Linked DNA regions of Homo sapiens: region 2 is linked to region 1. A link means that fine-mapping ties the variant in region 1 to the expression of a gene that starts in the linked region. Tissue or cell type: whole blood. Region 1 holds a variant in brackets; the other region holds the start of a gene. All regions are shown on one strand. Distances are between the middles of the regions.

Region 1 (10,312 bases):
CTGTAATCCCAGCTACTCGGGAGGCTGAGGCAGGAGAATCTCCTGAACCCAGGAGGTTGCGGTGAGCTGAGATCACGCCATTGCACTCCAGCCTAGGTGACAGAGTGAGACTCTGTCTTGGAAAAAAAAAAAAGAAAGTACAGTAAAAACTCTCCTTCCTACCCCACCTTCCCCATCTGCTCAATTCTCCCGATTTTCCCAACATATAACCATTGTTGTTCATTTTTACTGCCCAGAAATTGTTTTGGAAACATACAAGCTAATACAAGCATATTCTCTTTCATTCTTCCTTCTTACATAAATGGCATTCAATACACAGTTTTGCACCCTTGCTGTCTTCACTTAGCACACTGTTTTGTTTTGTTTTTTTTTTGATACGGAGTCTCGCTTTGTCACTCAGGCTGGAGTGCAATGGCATGATCTTGGCTCACTGCAACCTCCGCCTCTTGGATTCAAGCAATTCTCTGCCTCAGCCTCTGGAGTAGCTGGGATTACAGGTGCCCGTGACCACGCCCGGCTAATTTTTGTATTTTTAGTAGAGACAGGGTTTCATCATGTTGGCCAGGCTGGTCTTGAACTCCTGACCTCGTGATCCACCTGCCTCAGCCTCCCAAAGTGCTGGGATTACAGGCGTGAGCCACCACACCTGGCCCACTTAGCACACTTTTGAGATTGCTGCAGTGCACTGCTATCAGTTCATACAGAGCTTCCTCATTCGACTTCACAGGTGCACAGCATTGCTTTCAACAGGTTTATCATGGTTGAACTATGTCCCTGTTCGCTGACAGTTGTGTTCACTCTTTGGCTATTATAAACAATGCCAAAATAAAGAATCTTGTAGATGCATCATTTGCATGTGTTTTAGTCTATTCATCTGTGTGAATAATTCCTGGAGGTGGAACTACTCAGTGTGCGTAGTTGTAATTTTGACAGACACTTCCATATTGACCCCTCCATGAGTTAGTGACTCTGTTAGTCTTTCAACTGCAATGCCTGTCTCTTCAGGTTCTTAAAAGTACAACATGTTTTCAAACTTTTGGATTTTTAGTCTAATAAGTATACAGTATAGTTTTTCTTCCTTTTTTTTTTTTAAACAACATAGCTTTAATTTGCATTTCCCTGCTAAGTTCCATAAGAACAGAGATTTTTGTCCCTGTTGGTCAGTTCTATATTCTATAGTTCCAAGAGCATATACAGGGAGTTAAATATTTATTAAATGAATAAGCAGTGAGTAGAATATTTTACATATGTTTACAAGCCATTCCTACATGCTTTACATGAGCTATACATTCAAATTCTGTATCTTTCTGTTGTTGGTCTTTTTCTTATCAATTCATGGATGCTCTTTACATATTAGGGGGGATTAGTCTTTGCTTTTTGGTGTTTTTTTTTTTTTTTTTTGAGACAGGGTCTTGCTCCATCACCAAGATTGGAGTGCAGTGGTGTATCTTGGCTCACTGTACCCTCCAGCTCCCAGGCTCAAGCAATCAATCCTCCCACCTCAGCCTCCTGAATAGCAGAGACTATAGGCATACACCCCCACACTCAGCTAATTTTTTAGTTTTTTTGTAGGTACAAGGTCTCATTATATTGCCCAGGCTGATCTTGAACTCCTGGGCTCAAGTGATCCTTCTACTTCAGCCTCCCAAAGTGCTGGGATTACAGGCGTGAGCCACCATGCCTGACCCAGATTAGTCCTTTATCTGTAACATGAGTTGCAAATACTTCTCAACTGGTTATATGTCTTTAGACTCTCCATAGTGTTTTTGTTACGAATAATTTTTTATGTGTTTGAATATATCAGAAGTTTATCTACTTTTAATGAATATATCAGAAGTTTGTCTACTTTTTTTTTTTTAATTAATTTATTTCTGAACAGAGTCTCACTCTGTCACCCAGGCTGGAGTGAAGCGGTGCGACCTTGGCTCACTGCAACCTCCGCCTCGTGGGTTCAAACGATTCTCCTGCCTCAGCCTCCAGAGTAGCTGGGATTATAGGCATGCGCCACCACACCCAGCTAATTTTTGTATTTTTTGAGTAGAGACGAGGTTTCACCATGTTGGCCAAACTGGTCTCAAACTCCCGACCTCGGCTGATCCGCCTGCCTTGGCCTCCCAAAGTGCTGGGGTTATAGGCGTGAGCCACCACACCCGGCCAGAAGTTTGTCTACTTTTAATACAAGCCTTGCCCTATCCAGACACAGTTCTACATAGTTTTAAATGGCCACAGTATTATTTAATACATAAAAAGCAATACACATGTGCACACAGAGAGAGAGAGAGAGCACCAGAGCTAGAAAACAATACCTACCTCATAACCATACTGAAGAACAGAAGAAGCTAGGCACGCTCCCAAAATGTTGCCCACCGAAGCACAGGCACTCCAGAGACCAAAAACAACTCCTCGTCTAAGATGGAAAACAGTGGGAGACAAAGGGCCATGGTCAGAAGAGATACTCTGGGCAGTTCAAAATACAAAACAGCCAAAACAACCAAGGTGCATACTACCAAGACTAAACATGCTATTTAAAAAGTTTTTAAAAATACACTAAAATGGGCTGGGCGCAGTGGCTCACACCTGTAATCCCAGTACTTTGGGAGGCCAAGGCGGACAGATCACCTGAGGTCAGGAGTTCGAGACCAGCCTGACCAACATGGAGAAACCCCATCTCTACTAAAAATACAAAATCAGTTGGGCGTGGTGGCAGGCGCCTGTAATCCCAGCTACTCGGAAGACTGAGGCAAGAGAATAGCTTGAACCCATGAGGCAGAGGTTGCAGTAAGCCGAGATCACGCCACTGCACTCCAGCCTTGACAACAAAGCGAGACTCCACCTCCCAAAAAAAAAAAACAAAACAAAAAAATCCAGAATATAAGGCCCTCAAAACTCAGTAAAATATGACAACAGACAATGCAATAGTATGTTAAAAAGCATGAATCTACAATCATCTCAAAATACAAAGTCTTTGAAAAGTGGGCAAAAGATTTTAATAGATACTTCACACAAAAAAATATACAAAGAAGCACACGAAAAAACACTCAAGTGGCCAGGCGAGGGCTCACGCCTGTAATCTCAGCCTTTGGGAGGCCTGAGGTGGGCAGGTCACTTGAGGTCAGGAGTTTGAGACTAGCCTGACCAACACGGCGAAACCCCGTCTCTACTAAAAATACAAAAATTAGCTGCACATGGTGGCTGCACACCTATAATCCCAGCTACTTGGGAGGCTGAGGCAAGAGAATCACTTGAAACCAGGAGGCGGAGGTTGCAGTGAGCCGAGATCGCACCACTATACTCCAGCCTGGGTGACAGGGCGAGACCCTGTTTCAAAAGCAAAACAAAGCAAAAATGTTTTTAAAAAGATGCTCAACGTCATTAGATATTAGAAAAATGGAAATTAAAGTCACAATGCGATATCATTACACACCTATTAGAATGGCTAAAATCAAAAAACACCAAGCACGCCAAGTGTTGGGAAGGGCACAGAGCAATAAGAACCCTTATGCTCTGCTGATGGGAATGTAAAATGGTACGACCACCTTGGAAGAGACTGCCAGTGTCTTAAAATGGTAAACGCAGCCAGGCGCAGTAGCTACGCCTATAGTCCCAGCACTTTGGGAGGCCAAGGTGGGTGGATCACCTGAGGTCAGGAGTTCAAGACCAGCCTGGCCAACATGGAGAAACCCCATCTCCACTAAAAATACAAAAAATTAGCTGGGCATGGTGGCGGGCCCCTGTAATCCCAGCTACTCGGGAGGCTGAGGAAGGAGAATTGCTTGAACCCAGGAGGTGGAGGCTGAGGTGAGCCGAGATCACGCCATTGCACTCCAGCCTGGGCAGTAAGAGCGAAACTCTGTCCTGGGGAAAAACAAAAAAAAGGGAAATACAAACCTAGCATATGATCCAGCCATTCTACCCCTAGATATTTACCCAAGAGAAATGAAAGCATATGTCCACACAAGGATTTGTACACAAATGTTCCCAGGAGCTTTATTTGTAACCGCCCAAAACTGAAAACAACCCAAATGTTCATCCACAGGTGAATGAATAAACATGAATAAATTTATAATTATGCTGAATGAAAGAAGACACAAAGGCTGGGTGTGGTGGCTCATGCCTATATTCCCAGCACTTCGGGAGGCCGAGGCAGAATAGCTTGAGGCCATGAAATTGAGACCAGCCTGGGCAACACAGACCCTTTCTCTACAGGAAAAAAAAAAAAAAAAGATGACTCAAAAAAAGAGTACATACTGTATGATTCCATTTATATATAAAATTATGGCTGGGTGCGGTGGCTCATGCCTGTAATCCCAGCACTTTGGAAGGCTGAGGCGGGCGAAATCACCTGAGGTCAGGAGATCGAGACCAGCCTGACCAACATGGAGAAACCCCATCTGTACTAAAAATGCAAAACTAGCCAGGTGTGGGGGCACATGCCTGTAATCCCAGCTACTCAGGAGGCTACAGCAGGAGAATCGCTTGAACCTGGGAGGCGGAGGTTGCAGTGAGCCGAGATCGCGCCATTGCAATGGGCAACAAGAGCAAAACTCCATCTCAAAAAAAAAAAAAAAATTAGCTGGACATGGTGGTACACACCTGTAATCCCAGCTACTTGGGAGGCTGAGGCAGGAGAATCACTTGAACCCCGGAGGCGAAGGTTGCAGTGAGCCGAGATCACCCCACTGCACTCCAGCCTGGTGACAGAGCAAGACTCTGTCTCAAAAACAAAAAAGAAAAAAAAGCTCCTTGAAGGTTTAGAGGGAAAAAATACCCCATTTGATCAAGCCCCAAAGTCTGGCGTTCTTCATCTGAGTCTAATTAGAGCCCTTGTTACATGACCTTGGGCAGGTCAACATGAATAACCTTTGACCTTAATTTCCTTATCTTTAATGTAAAAAGGTTAAATAAGATCACTCTCAAAAAAGGGCAGGGAAGGCAAAACCCAAAGGAAGATACATGATGGATAGTAAATGAGATTTTTATGTTCTATAAAGAAACGATGAGTAAAATAAAAAATTGAGACCTCCTGCCTTGGCCCACACTCAGAATCTGCCCACAGCCCAAAGAGTGGTAGGAGTGTGTCTCCTAGGCTGGATGACTTCTAAGGTCCACACCATTTCCAACGCACACTGACGTGAAACCCTCTCTCCCTGAACAACTCTGACTTGCTAACGAAAGATGTGGGTGGTATCTAAGGCAGCAAAGTAACTGACTTTGACAAGTCTGAAAAATCCACCATGGAAACCACTTAAACAGAGAAATTAGAGAGGAAGGAAGTGGCATACCCGGCTTTCCCAAACCAGTTGCCCATAACAGCAACCACACAGGGCCAACCAGTGGACTGCAGCAGGCCGTTCACAATCCACAGGCAGCAGTACAGCCATTTGTTGTAGAAACGCAGCCATTCTGTGAGCGCACCAAAGACAAACACCTTGAAGAGGAGGAAACAAAAGGAATATGTAACAGCCACACTGACACTTTCAGTGGACGCCACTCTACCCACTTGCTTCAGAGTAGAGACCACGTGAAGGATACACTCACACAGCCAGTGCCTGTAAGTCACGTGGCCAGCATCACAAAGGTCCTGCTCAGAGCCACAGTGAGGAGGCAGCCACCCAATCACTGCCCACCAGAGAGGAGGAGATGCCAAAGACATAAAGTCATTAAGCTATCAGCCCTCCAACTGACATCTTCAAGGCTAAAAAGTGAATTCCAGGCCGGGCTCACGCCTGTAATCTCAGCACTTTGGGAGGCCGAGGAGGGCAGATCACAAGGTCAGGAAATCGAGACCATCCTGGCTAACACGGTGAAACCCCGTCTCTAATGAAATTATAAAAAATTAGCTAGGCGTGGTGGCAGGTGCCTGTAGTCCCAGCTACTCAGGAGGCTGAGGCAGGAGAATGGCATGAACCTGGGAGG[T/C]GGAGCTTGCAGTGAGCCAAGATCGTGCCACTGCACTCCAGCCTGCGCGGGAGTGCGAGACTCTGTCTCAAAAAAAAAAAAAAAAAGTAATTCCTCATTTTACATGTATTTCCATCTCCTCACCCTCAGACTGTGCATGTGGAGGGAACAGCAACCTCCAGAGGGCTGCTGTGAGGACAGAACGAGCCCAGGGAGGCCACCTTTCCCGGAGCAGTGCCAGGTGCTGCTATGGGCAGAGGCACGGGGCGCATGCCAGCCACTGTTATGGCTACAGCTCCTGAGTTAATCAACGAAAGCGAAACCTATCAAACTTGTGATCTGCTGAATCATTTAGCAGCTTTCATCAAGGGGCTGCTTTTTTCCAGGCATTTTGCTCAAGTGGACATTTTATCTACAGTCAAACTCTATTCTGAGAATACTCTGCATGATTAAAAAATAGTATGTATAATACTGTCTAGTTCCAGTTACAAGACATTCTGGAATAAGTAAAACTGTACACAGAAAAATGATCAGGGGTTGCCAGGGGCTGGAGAAAGAAGGGGCGGTCACAAAACTACTCATTTGTTGAAAAGTCTGAACAATATGCTTAAAAAGGGCAAGTTTATGTACAAACTGCAGTTTTTAAAAAATACATAAAACACAAAAAAGTCTGTACACAGGTTTTAAAATAATATGTTTATTATGTGTGGGTGAGCAACTCATAAATAAATAAAGTGCTTCCATCTCTAAAATGTCAAGGGGAAAAAAGGTTTTACTTACACTCAAATGACAAACACTGAAAAACAATAGTAGGCCAAACGCAGGGACTTGTGCCGGTAATTCCAGTGTTTGCGGAGGCAAAGGAGGGAGGATCACTTAAGGCCAGGAGTTCAAGGAACAACCTGGGCAATATAGTGAGACCCCATGACTAAAAAATTTAAAAATTAGCTAAGCATGATGGTACACACCTACAGTCCCAGCTACACGGGAGGCTAAAATGGGAGGATTGCTCGAGCTTGGGAGTTCAAGGCTGCAGGATCACACCGCTGCACTCCAGCCTGGGCAGCAAATCGAGACCTTATCTCTAAAAAAATAATAATCATAATAAATTAGGGTCTAACTAAACTCCATGGTTTCATTTAATCAACAAAAATTCCTGACTAGAAGCTAGTAAGCAATGACGATTAGTCAGATATGGAGGCTGGGCACGGTGGCTCACCCCTGTAATCCCAGCACTTTGGGAGGCTGGGGTGGGCAGATCACCTGAGGTCAGGAGTTCAAGACTAGCCTGGCCAACATGGTGAAACCCTGACTCTACTAAAAATACAAAAATTAGCCGGGAATGGTGGTGCACACCTGTAGTCCCAGCTACTCAGGAGGCTAAAACAGGAGAATGGCTTGAATCTGGGAAGTGGAGGTTGCAGTGAGCCAAGATCATGCCACTGCACTCCAGCTTGGGTGACAGAGCAAGACTCCGTTTAAAAAAAAAAAAAAAAAGATTAATCAGATATGGATCCTCCCCTACACAGCACTTGTTTCAAATGCCTCACATACAGAAACTCACAGTCCTCACTGCCACCCGGGGAGAGCTAATATGCCCATCTCCCTCTGAAGCTCACAGAAATCATAAGCTAGAAAACCACAGAAGACAGACAGAAACCCAGGCTGTCCTTGTCTAGGGAATCTGTGATTTTAACCACTGCATACCCACCCTAAGGGAAAGCAAGACTGAACCAGAAATAACCAAGCTAAGCGGCAGACTGTTTCAAGTGCCTGCAAAGAAACAGGCACTGCAGCTCAGAAGCGGGACTGACATTCTCAAAGAGGTGTCATTTGGCCAATGCTTGAAGGAGACTGTGAGTTAGACTATGGAGAGCTGAAAAGGGGACCATCCAAGGCAGGCAGAACAGGAGAAACAAAAGCACCGAGATAGAAAGGAGCAGGATAGGGCCAGGTGCGGTGGCTCACACCTGTAATCCCAGCACTTTGGGAGGCCGAGGTGGGCGGATCACCTGAGGTCGGGAGTTCGAGACCAGCCTGACCAACATGGAGAAACCCGTCTTTACTAAAAATAAAAAAGTTAGTCAGGTGTGGTGGTGCATGCTTGTAATCCCAGCTACTCAGGAGGCTGAGGCATGAGAATCGCTTGAACCTGGGAGGTGGAGGTTGTGGTGAGCCAAGATTGTGCCATTCCACTCCAGCCTGGGCAACAAGAGCAAAACTCCGGACACACAGCCTCTCCCTCCCCCTCCCCCTCCCCCTCCCCCTCCCCCTCCCCCTCCCTCTCTCCCTCTCCGTCTCCCTCTCTCTCCACGGTCTCCTTCCACGGTCTCCCTCTGATGCCGAGCCAAAGCTGGACGGTACTGCTGCCATCTCGGCTCACTGCAACCTCCCTGCCTGATTCTCCTGCCTCAGCCTGCCGAGTGCCTGCGATTGCAGGCGCGCGCCGCCACGCCTGACTGGTTTTCGTTTTTTTTTTGGTGGAGACGGGGTTTTGCTGTGTCGGCCGGGCTGGTCTCCAGCTCCTAACCGCGAGTGATCCGCCAGCCTCGGCCTCCCGAGGTGCCGGGATTGCAGACGGAGTCTCGTTCACTCAGTGCTCAATGGTGCCCAGGCTGGAGTGCAGTGGCGTGATCTCGGCTCGCTACAACCTCCACCTCCCAGCTGCCTGCCTTGGCCCCCCAAAGTGCCGAGATTGCAGCCTCTGCCCAGCCGCCACCCTGTCTGGGAAGTGAGGAGCGTCTCTGCCTGGCCCCCCATCGTCTGGGATATGAGGAGCCTCTCTGCCTGGCTGCCCAGTCTGGAAAGTGAGGAGCGTCTCTGCCCGGCCACCATCCCATCTAGGAAGTGAGGAGCGCCTCTTCCCGGCCGCCATCCCATCTAGGAAGCGAGGAGCGCCTCTTCCCCGCCGCCCATTGTCTGAGATGTGGGGAGCGCCTCTGCCCCGCCGCCCTGTCTGGGATGTGAGGAGCGCCTCTGCTGGGCCGCAACCCTGTCTGGGAGGTGAGGAGCGTCTCTGCCCGGCCGCCCCGTCTGAGAAGTGAGGAAACCCTCTGCCTGGCAACCGCCCCGTCTGAGAAGTGAGGAGCCCCTCCGTCCGGCAGCCACCCCGTCTGGGAAGTGAGGAGCGTCTCCGCCCGGCAGCCGCCCCGTCCGGGAGGGAGGTGGGGGGGGGGGTCAGCCCCCCGCCCGGCCAGCCGCCCCGTCTGGGAGGTGAGGGGCGCCTCTGCCCGGCCGCCCCTACCGGGAAGTGAGGACCCCTCTGCCCGGCCAGCCGCCCCGTCCGGGAGGGAGGTGGGGGGTCAGCCCCCCGCCCGGCCAGCCGCCCCGTCCGGGAGGTGAGGGGCGCCTCTGCCCGGCTGCCCCTACTGGGAAGTGAGGACCCCTCTGCCCGGCCAGCCGCCCCGTCCGGGAGGGAGGTGGGGGGGGGGGTCAGCCCCCTGCCCGGCCAGCCGCCCAGTCCGGGAGGGAGGTGGGGGGTCAGCCCCCCACCCGGCCAGCCGCCCCGTCCGGGAGGGAGGTGGGGGGATCAGCCCCCCGCCTGGCCAGCCGCCCCGTCCCGGAGGTGAGGGGCGCCTCTGCCCGGCCGCCCCTACTGGGAAGCGAGGAGCCCCTCTGCCCGGCCAGCCGCCCCGTCCGGGAGGGAGGCGGGGGGGGGGGTCGGCCAGCCGCCCTGTCCGGGAGGGAGGTGGCGGGGTCAGCCCCCCGCCCAGCCGGCCGCCCCGGCCGGGAGGTGAGGGGCGCCTCTGCCCGGCCGCCCCTAATGGGAAGTGAGGACCCCTCTGCCCGGCCAGCCGCCCCGTCAGGGAGGGTGGTGGGGGGGGTCAGCCCCCCGCCCGGCCAGCCGCCCCATCCGGGAGGTGAGGGGCGCTTCTGCCCGGCCGCCCCTACTGGGAAGTGAGGAGCCCCTCTGCCCGGCCACGACCCCGTCTGGGAGGTGTGCCCAGCGGCTCATTGGGGATGGGCCATGATGACAATGGCGGTTTTGTGGAATAGAAAGGCGGGAAGGGTGGGGAAAAAATTGAGAAATCGGATGGTTGCCGGGTTTGTGTGGATAGAAGTAGACATGGGAGACTTTTCATTTTGTTCTGTACTAAGAAAAATTCTTCTGCCTTGGGATCCTGTTGATCTGTGACCTTATCCCCAACCCTGTGCTCTCTGAAACATGTGCTGTGTCCACTCAGGGTTAAATGGATTAAGGGCGGTGCAAGATGTGCTTTGTTAAACAGATGCTTGAAGGCAGCAGGCTCGTTAAGAGTCATCACCACTCCCTAATCTTAAGTACCCAGGGACACAAACACTTCGGAAGGCCGCAGGGTCCTCTGCCTAGGAAAACCAGAGACCTTTGTTCACTTGTTTATCTGCTGACCTTCCCTCCACTATTGTCCTATGACCCTGCCAAATCCCCCTCTGCGAG
Region 2 (10,312 bases), 41 kb after region 1:
CTGAGCAATATGGTGAAACCCTGTCTCTACAAAAAATACAAAAATCAGCGGGGCATGCTGGTGCACACCTGTAGTCCCAGCTACTCGAGAGGTGGAGGCGGGAGGATCGCTTGAACCCGGTAGGTGGAGACTGAAGTGAGCCAAGGTTGCACCATTGCACTCCAGCCTGGGCAACAGAGTGAGACCCCATATCAAAAAAAAAAGTTTTTTTTTGAATCAATGAATTGGTTGACTGACAGCAGAACACTGAATGCTTACAAAGTACTAGGCACCATGCTAGGTACCTACCATGCATTACTGCATTTAGTTCTCTCAATGTTTTACAGATGAGAAAACAGATATTAGAAAGTAATCTCTAGGTCTGGTCCAGTGGCTCACGCCTATAATCCCAGCACTTTGGGAGGCCAAGGTGGGAGGATCACTTAAGCTCAAGAGTTTAAGACCAACCTTGGCAACATAGGGAGACCTCATTCATCTCTACAAAAAATACAAAAATCAGCCAGTTGTGGTGGCGGACACCTGTGGCCCTATCTACTTGGGAGGCTGAGGTGGGAGGATCACTTGAGCCTGGGAGGCTGAGGCAGCAGTGAGCCATGACTGCACCACTGCACTCCAGCCTGGGCGACAGAGCGAGACTCCATCTGAAAAAAAAACAGGGTCTCGCTCTGTCGCCCAGGCTGGAGGGCAGTGGCGTGATCTTGGCTTACTGCAACCTCCGCCTCCCAGGTTCATGCGATTCTTCTGCCTCAGCCTCTTGAGTAGCTGGGACTACAGGCATGCACCACCACGTCCAGCTAATTTTTGTATTTTTAGTAGAGACAGGGTTTCACCATATTGGCAAGGCTGGTCTCGAACCCCTGACCTCGTGATCCGCCTGCCTCAGCCTCCCAAAGTGCTGGGATTACAGGTGTGAGCTACTGTGCCCAGCCCTCATAAAATTTTTTAAAAAAGAAAGCAATCTCTCTCAAACGATGGAGTGCACATTCCAACTCAGATCTAATTCTAGATCCTATGTTATATCATTTAAGGGTAAAGGTTAAAATAGAAAATACTCCAAGCTGGATAAAATACAATAGTTAGAACTATCACACCCTTCATGCATTAAAAAAGAGCTATAAAGCCGGGCACAGTGGCTCATGCCTGTAACCTGAACACTTTGGGAGGCCAAGGCAGGTGGATCACGAGGTTAGGAGTTCAAGACCAGCCTGGCCAAAATGGTGAAACCCCGTCTCTACTAAAAATATAAAAATTAGCCAGGTGTGGTGGTGGGCACCTATAATCCCAGCTGCTTGGGAGGCTGAGGCAGAGAACTGCTTGAACCCGGGAGGCGGAGGCTGCAGTGAGCTGAGATGGTGCCACTGCACTCCAGCCTTGGTGACAAAGCGAGACTCCATCTCAAATTAAAAAAAAAAAAAAAAAAAAAAAAGAGCTATAAAAAAATAAAAATAGGCTGGGTGCGGTGGCTCACACCTGTAATCCCAGCACTTTGGGAGGCCAAGGCAGGTGGATCATTTGAGGTCAGGAGTTCTAGACCACCCTGGCGAATATGGCGAAACCCTGTCTCTACTAAAAACACAAAAATTGGCCAGGTGTGGTGGTGGGTGCCTGTAATCCCAGCTACTTGGGAGGCTGAAACAGGAGAATTGCTTGAACCCAGGAGGCGGAGGTTGCAGTGAACCGAGATCCCCCTACTGCTCTCCAACCTGGGCAACAGAGCAAGACTCTGTCTCAAAAAATAAATAAATAAATAAATAAAAGAACTAGCACACCTAAACTCAGAGGTATATACCAAGGATGGGGAAAAAAAACATCTTACTGGTAAGAGTGGTTCTCTTACACACTCAAAGGAGAGGGGCATTAGATGGGCAATTACTCACCTCCCAGACTTCAGTTTTTATGTCTGCACAGTAAAAAGATTATGTGTTTTCAAAGTGTAAAGAAGAATGTGGGAAATTATTAAATGTATAGTTGAGTTCACCATTTTTACAGTATTGTATATGTTGCAGTTTAGCGTCTCAATGCTCACACTCATACAACTATCTTTTTTTTTTTTTCAGAGACAGGGTCTCACTCTGTTACCCAGGCTGGAGTGCAGTGGCGTGATCATAGTTCACTGCAGCCTCAATCTCCTTCCTAGGTTTAAGCGATCCTCCTGCCTCAGCCTCCAAAGTTGCTGGGACTACAGGTGGGCACCATCACACCTGGCTAATTTTCTTAGTTTTTGTAGAAACAGGGTCTTGCTATGTTAACCAGTCTGGTCTTAAATTCCTGGCCTTAAGAGATAGATCCTCCTGCCTCAGCCTCCCAAAGCCCTAGGATTATGGGCATGAGCCACTGCACCCAGCCACAAGTATCTTTTTTATCCCACATTATCTCATACGAAGCCATTTACTTGAACCTCATAAATCCTTTTTATTCATTAATTCATCCGTCTTCCTGTAATTTTTATCTCTTCTTAAATTATCTCATTACCACAGGCATAAAATACTTGGCATTTATCTGTAAATATCTCTCATTTTATTCCAGGGTTTCCAAAACCACATTCTTCCTCCCTGTTTTTGGACATGTTCCAAAGACAACTAGTTTTCAAGATAAAAATCTTTCCCTCTTCTACCAAAGGATTTATAATCAAGTTAATGGTCACTGCAGTGACATGACATTAACACTGATGAACAGAGCACAAATCAGAACCTTAAACAATGAACAAGGCAGTTGATCCTGACAGCTAGAAAGCAGCAAGATACTGTTGACTTAACTTTTATAAAAGTATTGTTTCCGGGTCACCTTCTTAGGCAGAGACTCGAAATCAAACACTAATAGAAGAATGGTGTCATTCAAGAGACAAGCCAGGTATGGAATCTAAGACCCTCCACTTAAAAGTAGCTTCTCTGAATCTCAATTTCTGTTTTTTTTTTTGTTTTTTTTTTTTTGACAGAGTCTGAGGCCGGGCGCAGTGGCTCACGCCTGTAATTACAGCGCTTTGGGAGGCCAAGGCAGGCGGACCACGAGGTCAGGAGATCCAGATCATCATGGCCAATATGGTGAAACCCCGTCCCTACTAAAAATCCAAAAATTAGCCTGGCGTGGTGGCGGGCGCCTGTAGTCCCAGCTACTCGGGAGGCTGAGGCAGGAGAATCACTTGAACCCGGGAGGCGGAGGTTGCAGTGAGCCGAGATGGTGCCACGGCACTCCAGCCTGGGCGACAAGAACAAAAACTCAGTCTCAAAAAAAAAAAAGACAGAGTCTGGCTCTGTCACCCAGGCTGGAGTGCAGTGGTGTGATCTCGGCTCACTGCAACCTCCGCCTCCCAGGTTCAAGCGATTCTCCTGCCTCAGCCTCCCGAGTAGCTGGGATTACAGGCATGCGCCACGACGCCCAGCTAATCTTTGTATTTTTAGTAGAGACGGGGTTTCACCATGTTGGCCAGGCTGGTCTTGAACTCCTGACCTCAAGGAATCCACAGGCCTCGGCCTCCCAAAGTGCTGGGATTACAGGCATGAGACACCGCGCCCAACCCGAAGCTCAATTTCCTCATGTATTAATTAAATGAGATAATTTATATGGAGTTCTTAGTATAGAGCCTAGTATCCAAGAAACATCAAACAAACTGAAAAGAAATCATTTAAGCACCAAAGCACTGAAGACATTCCCTTCAACAACTGTTATATATATTTATGTATGTATAAATTTGTGTAAAGGTAGAAATAAACCGGTGGACAAAAAGATAACAACTGAATGATTTTGCTCACCCCAGGAACCACTCCTCCCTATAAACTATAAACTTTTCAGTAAGAGTTACCACGAGATAGCCTACCATCTTACATTTCAAAAAAACACTAAAAACTCCGGGGACACATTCCCATTATCTCCTGTCAAAACTGAGAATAAACAGAACACACCCTGCGAAGAATAAGGAGGGAATGACGAATAATTTGACCAAATTCCTTGACTGAGTTCATGCTAGTTACCAGAAAACAAAACCAGTCACTCACTGAGACCACGCTTCTTCTCTGACCTCTATACATCCTTTCCAAAGAGCTTCCTTCCCCACCTACCTGAAAAGCATCCCCTCTCCCCTGGTCCGAACGACAAGCCCTTTTCTGATCAAGTCAGAATCTCCCAGACCCACGGCCGGAGGACAGGCGGGCGAGGAGCACAAAAGCCTCTGCCGCATGGATCGGGGCCGGGCCGCAGGGTCCCCCGGGGGTCCTTCTCCTCCCCATCCACCCCATCGCAGCCTCCCCGTGACGGCCGGGACCCCAGGCCCGGGCCCAGGGAGGAGAAGGAGGGGGCGAGCGGCCGACCCTGCCTGGGCGCCCCACCCAAGGGGGGCCGCCACCTACATCTCCCCACCGCCCTCCCGACCCGGGAAGCCCCTCGGATTGGACCCGCCCCCGCCCCAGCAGGTCTTCGGCCCCACGCATCACCGCTTGCGCACCCGAGATCCGCAGTGGTCGCCGCTCTCCAGCCCCGGCTCCGCTCGCCGGGTCAGCTTGGCTCCGCTGCCCGCCTCCCCCGCCGCCAGCTCACCCCTGGCGGTGCGACCAGGGTTTCCGGACGCCCACGTGACCCTCCCGTCGCGGGGCACGCTGGGAGTTGTAGTCCCGCCACGCGGCCTCACCTGCCGGCGCGGAGGAGGGCGAGGAGGGCGGAGGCTGGGAGCCCACAGAACTCTGCTGCTGCGGACCTGGCCAGTAATGTTAGCTGCAAAAGACGAGAGGTAGAGAGAAGAAATGATATGGGGAGAACTGGTGCATCCTTTTTTTTTTTTTTTTTTTTTTTTTTTCAAAAAAGCGGTATTCGGTCTTTGTTTTTATAAAAAGTAACGTGCTGCTAAGTGTGCTACTGACCGGCCTAAATTTTAGGTGTCTAATTAAATGCAGGCCGGGCACAGTGGGCTCACGCCTGTAATCCAACACTTTAGGAGGTCGAGAAGGGAGGATCACTTGAACCCAGTAGTTCAAGACCAGCCTTAGCAACATAGCCAGACCCCATCTCTACAAAAAATGTTAAAATTAGCCAGGAGTAGTGGCATGTGCCTGTGGTCCCTGCTACTGGGGCGACCGAGGTGCGAGGATCGCTTGAGCCCAAAAGTTTGAGGCTGGCAGCTGTGATTGCTCCACTGCACCAGCCTGGGCAACAGAACGAGACCCTGCCTCCAAAAAAAAAAAATCCAACACAAGTGTCTCACACCTGTAATCCTAACACTTTGGGAGGCCGAAGTAGGAGCATCATTTGAGAACAAGAGTTTGAGACCAGCCTGGGCAAGGTAGTGAGAGCCGCCCCCCATCCACCACCACCACCGCCGCCACCGTTTCTTAAATAAAGGGAAAAAATACAGACACTTGTTCGAATTTTAAAGAAAAAAAACTTCTCTTAATCCAGAAAATCTCCACAACAACCATTACATACCTGTTCTCAAGATAAACAATCACTAGTCTTCAAATAACAGAACTTGACAACACCTTTTGTCAAACATAGTTCCTCCTTACTTAATAGTAGTAATTGGGGAGACCACTCATGTTGGCTTTATCCAGAAGCAAAACAAACTTCGCATAACTTTTTGTTGTTGTTGTTCGTTTTTTAAACTTCGCATATCTTTTTGTTTGTTTGTTTTTTGTTTTTGAGACGGAGTCTTGCTCTGTTACCCAGGCTGGAGTGCAGTGGCGTGATCTCAGCTCACTGCAAGCTCCGCCTCCCGGGTTCAAGGGATTCTCCTGCCTCAGCCTCCCGAATAGCTGGGACTACAGGCGCCCGCCACCACGCCTGGCTAATTTTTTTGTATTTTTAGTAGAGACGGGGTTTCACCGTGTTAGCCAGGATGGTCTCGATCTCCTGACCTCGTGATCTGCCCTCCTTGGCCTCCCAAAGTTCTAGCATTACAGGTGTGAGCCACCGCAGCCGGCCAAAGTTCGCATATCTTTATAGCAGGAGGTAGTTTTACAAATTGGAGCAAGGCGCCCATACCCACTAATTTAGTCTCTTACCCTCATGTAGGAACTGGAAGATACAGGCACTAACTCACGTCTGAATTTCAAAAAGATGACCCCCAAGTCCTTGAGGATACATTTCTGAGTTGTGATACTGGCAAGAGGCTCATTTCGCCGTTATAAAGATTTGTGTACATTCGAAAAGGACAGAGAAAGAAATTTTGAAGGAACAGAGAGAAGGCTGAGAAGTCTCTTTATTTTCAGCAGAGGAATTAAGCCTGTTATTTTTCATTTTTATTTGCCCTTATACAGTGGTAGTTTTGTTTCTAGCCCTTATACAGTGGTAGTTTTGTCTCTAGGCATCCAAGGAGAAATATGATGTCAGGGTGAGCAAAAATAAATGAGCCAAATATGTTACTTTTATTTTTAAAAATATATTGTGAATCGTTTATTTTTCAGCCTAAAAAAGGTAGCAAATTCTGACACATACTACAACATAGACGAACCTTCAAAAACATTATGCTAAGTGAAATAAGTCAGACATAAAAGGACCAGTACAGTACAGTTCCACTTATATGAGGTAGCCAGAGTAGTGAAATTCATAGAGTCAGAAAGTAGCATGGTGGTTGCCCATGGCTGGAGGGAAGGGGAAATGAGAAATTGTTGTTTAATGGCTATGGAGTTTCCGTTTGGGATGCCAAAAAAGTCCTGGAGATGGATGGTGATGTTGGTTGCACAACAATGTATTTAATGCCATTGAATTGTACACTTAAAAACGGTTAAAATGGTAAATATATATACATAGAGTGAAATACATAGTTTTTTGTGTTATATTTACATATGGGTGTATACATATATATGTGTGTGTGTATACTTCAAGTATATAACCTGTGTCACCACCACTCAGGGCTAGAATGCCTTCTTAGCCATGTGGTGGTGTGTATCTTTAATCCCAGCTACTAGGGAGGTTGAGGTAGGAGGATCACTTCAGCCGCACCTTTGGAGGCTGCAGTGAGCTATGATCGTACCACTGTGCTCCAGCCTGGGTGACAGAGGGAGACCCAGTCTCTTAAAAAAGAAAAAACAGTGTATATATACACACACATTTATACATATGAATGCCTTCTTTCCTGTAGCCCAAGCTATGCTCTTTGTATTTATAGTGACCTTGGTGGAGAGGGTTGGGTGGTAGACAGAGGTAAGATCTCTCTCCCCTTGACTTCCAAAACCATCAGGATATTTAAATATTTGTAACATTTGTTTTCTACCTGTAGATGTTCTCCAAGTGCTCAGTGGGTCTGAGTCAGGTGACTTTTTTTTTAAACAGTAACCACCCCAGGTGCGGTGGCTCACCCCTATAATCCCAGCACTTTGGAAGGCCGAGGCAAGTGGATCACCTGAGGTCAGGAGTTCCAGACCAGCCTGGCCAACATAGTGAAACCCCATCTCTACTAAAAATACAAAAATTAGCTGGACGTGGTGGCGGGTGCCTGTAATCCCAACTACTCGGGAGGCTGAGGCAGGAGAATCGCTTGAACCCGGGAGGTGGAGGTTGCAGTGAGCCAAGATCGCACCATTGCACTCGAGCCTGAGTGACAAAAGCTAAACCTTATCTCAGGAAAAAAAAAAAAAAAGTAACCATTACCAGAAGAAAGACAACATTTGGACACTGAACTTCATGACACTGACACCTAACAGGTTTTATTTCCTGATCACACATTTGGGGCGAATCTTTACCTACACTGGATTTCCACATTGTGCTGGTGGTTCTCACCCTGCAGCAATATTTGGCAGAGTCTTTTGTTTTCTTGCTATACCTGCCAGTGTTGAGTTTATCTCACTCAGAAGAGAGTATCCTGAAAATGGATATGTAACTGGAATTTTGGGTAAGACAAATATTTTCAAATTTATCTGAAGACATCATAGAAGTAATGTTCTTGGACAGTGAATAAATTGCCCTGTATTTCAGTGCTTCTCAAACGTTGCGGACCCCAGCCTACAGTTAAAAAGACATTTCAGGCCAGGCACGGTGGCCCACGCCTGTTATCCCAGCACCTTGGGAGGCTGATGTGGGAGGATTGCTTGATCCCAGGAGTTCGAGACCAGTCTGGGTAACAAAGTGAGGCCCTGGCTCTACAAAAAAATGAAATAAATAGCTGGGCATGATGGTGCACACCTGTAGTCCCAGATATACAGGAGGCTAAGGCAGGAAGATTGCTTGAGCCCAGGAGGTTGAGGCCGCAGTGAGCCATGACGGTGCCACTGCACTTCAGCCTGGGAGACAAAGTGAGACCCTGTCTCAAAAAAAACATTTTTTTTTTACATCACCCTGTAAAATATGCATGTGTACAACTGACCCAAACATTTTGCAAAACAGTAGTCACTGTTACTACACAAGATACATTCTGAAGTTGTTTCTTAATCCCTTCTTGTGAAAATGCTGGTTGCAACCCACAAAGGTTGATTTCATGACTCATTTATAGGTCTCAGCCCACAGTTTGGAAACAGGACACCGATGTAAATATTTTATCCAACAGGGTGTCTCTGTTTCAATTTTGCTTATTGTGTCTATAATGCCATTTAACTGCCTACATATCACATCCTATGTAGTGGAGAAAATCTGGTCCCTGTGATAGACATTGGGAGGCAGTTACTGTTCTAGACTCTGGGGAAAAAATAGTAAGGAAAATTCACCTCAGCTTTATGCTTCTACTGCCAGCATCTGGGACTGATAAACTTGAGGTTTTCTGGACGTCAACCTTTGCTCTATGGTAGAATTTTTGAGGGAGTGAGGCAGACATTTTCTTTTCAGCTTTTTCTTCTCATATACCTTCAAAGTTCTTTTAGTTTTGTTTTTGCTTCCTTCTCTTTGCATCATCTCCTTTCTCTGACTCCTCACAAAGAGATATTCAGATCTACAAAACAAAGACTTAAATTACTTACAATCTGGCCAGGTACGGTGGTTTCATGCCTTGTAATCCCAGCACTTCGGGAAGCCAAGGCAGGAGGATCACTTGAGCCCAGGAGTTTCTTCTCTTTTTTTCTTTTTTTTTTTGAGACGGAGTCTCACTCTGTCACCCAGGCTGGAGTGCAGTGGCGCGACCTTGGCTCACTGCAACCTCCACCTCGCAGGCTCAAGCGATTCTCCTGCCAGAGTAGCTGGGATTATAGGCTCACCACCAGACCCGGGTAATTTTTGTATTTTTAGTAGAGATGGGGTTTTGCCATGTTGGCCAGGCTGGTCTCGAACTCCTGACCTCAGGTGATCTGCCCACCTCAGCCTCCCAAAGTGCTGGGATCACAGGCATGAGCCACCATGCCTGGCCAAACCCAGGAGTGTCAAACCACCATGGGCAACATAGGGAGATCCCAGCTCTAAAAACAATAAATAGTGGGGCATGGTGGTGTATGACTGTAGTCCCAGCTACTTGGGAGGCTGAAGTGGGAGGCTTCCTTGAGCCTGGGATGTTGTGGCTGCAGTGAGCCATAATTATGCCTCTGCACTCCAGCCTGAGCCATAGAGCAAGACCCTGTCTCTAAAAAATATGTATATATAATAAAATAAATTACTTAAGATCTATATCCTCCTTTAGTTGGTGTTATCTCAACTAACAACCCTCAGGCCAGCTGTAGTCCCAGATATTCAGGAGGCTGAGGCAGGTGGATTGCTTGAGCCCGGGAGGTTGAGGCTGCAGTGAGCCATGAATGGTGCCACTGCACTTCAGCCTGGGTGACAGAGTGAGACCTTGTCTCCAAAAAAAAAAAAAAAATTTTTTTTTTACATCACCCAGTACAATATGCACATGTACAACTGACCCAAACATTTTGCAAAACAGTCGCTGTTACTACATGAGATACATTCTGAAATTGTTTCCTAACAAGGGACACCAGGACAAATTGAGAGCAAAGGACGCAAAAGCCCACAAGACAAGGTAAAGTAGAAGAAAGGAGCAGGGGCAGTGTCGTATGGGCCAGCACTGGTTTAATTCACTGGCTGTTCCTTCCTGTGAGGGCTTTCCGCTAGGCCGGCGAAGGCTGGTGAGAAAGCCGGCTCTGCGCCCTGCCCTGTGCTGGCCGCCCTCACCTGGCGCTTTGTACCCTGAGGCAGCTCCGGACTCAGGGCAGGTGGGAGGGATTGCACTTTCCTTTCACTTTCTCAGGACGCCAAACCCGACACCTGGGGCCAGAACTACACTTCCCACCAAGCAGCGAGGCAGGAGGAAGAAGGGGGCACTGGGGGGCTGAAAAGCAAACCCAGAAGAAAGCGAAAACATTACCTGCTGACCAGCAGAGGTGAGAGAGCGAGACAGGTAAGCGACAGGTGAACCAGGAAGGCGAAGGCTGCGGGATGCCGGCGGGAGGACATCATCGGGGTGGACGCT

The links. PIP is the estimated chance that this variant, and not a neighbour inherited with it, causes the effect.
Region 2: it holds the start of SLC37A3, and the variant in region 1 is fine-mapped to the expression of SLC37A3 in whole blood (TOPMed, PIP 0.95).

What each region holds. Positions count from the first base shown.
Region 1 is chr7:140,353,358-140,363,669 of GRCh38, forward strand. SLC37A3 (solute carrier family 37 member 3) reads right to left here. Exons shown (of 15, transcript NM_207113.3): 6 at 5,283-5,428; 7 at 2,311-2,407. Among named protein-coding and RNA genes, the nearest start is that of SLC37A3, 40 kb to the right of the region's middle. RefSeq lists enhancers at 6,245-6,294, 9,856-10,312. The variant T/C (reference allele first, on the strand shown) is at 5,917.
Region 2 is chr7:140,393,978-140,404,289 of GRCh38, forward strand. SLC37A3 (solute carrier family 37 member 3) reads right to left here and starts at 4,553. Exons shown (of 15, transcript NM_207113.3): 1 at 4,439-4,553. RAB19 (RAB19, member RAS oncogene family) reads left to right here and starts at 10,081. Exons shown (of 4, transcript NM_001008749.3): 1 at 10,081-10,240. It overlaps LOC124901759 (a long non-coding RNA gene), which reads right to left. Exons shown (of 2, transcript XR_007060561.1): 1 at 10,208-10,312; 2 at 7,606-8,845. RefSeq lists silencers at 4,091-4,360, 4,471-4,700 and enhancers at 9,654-10,155, 10,156-10,312.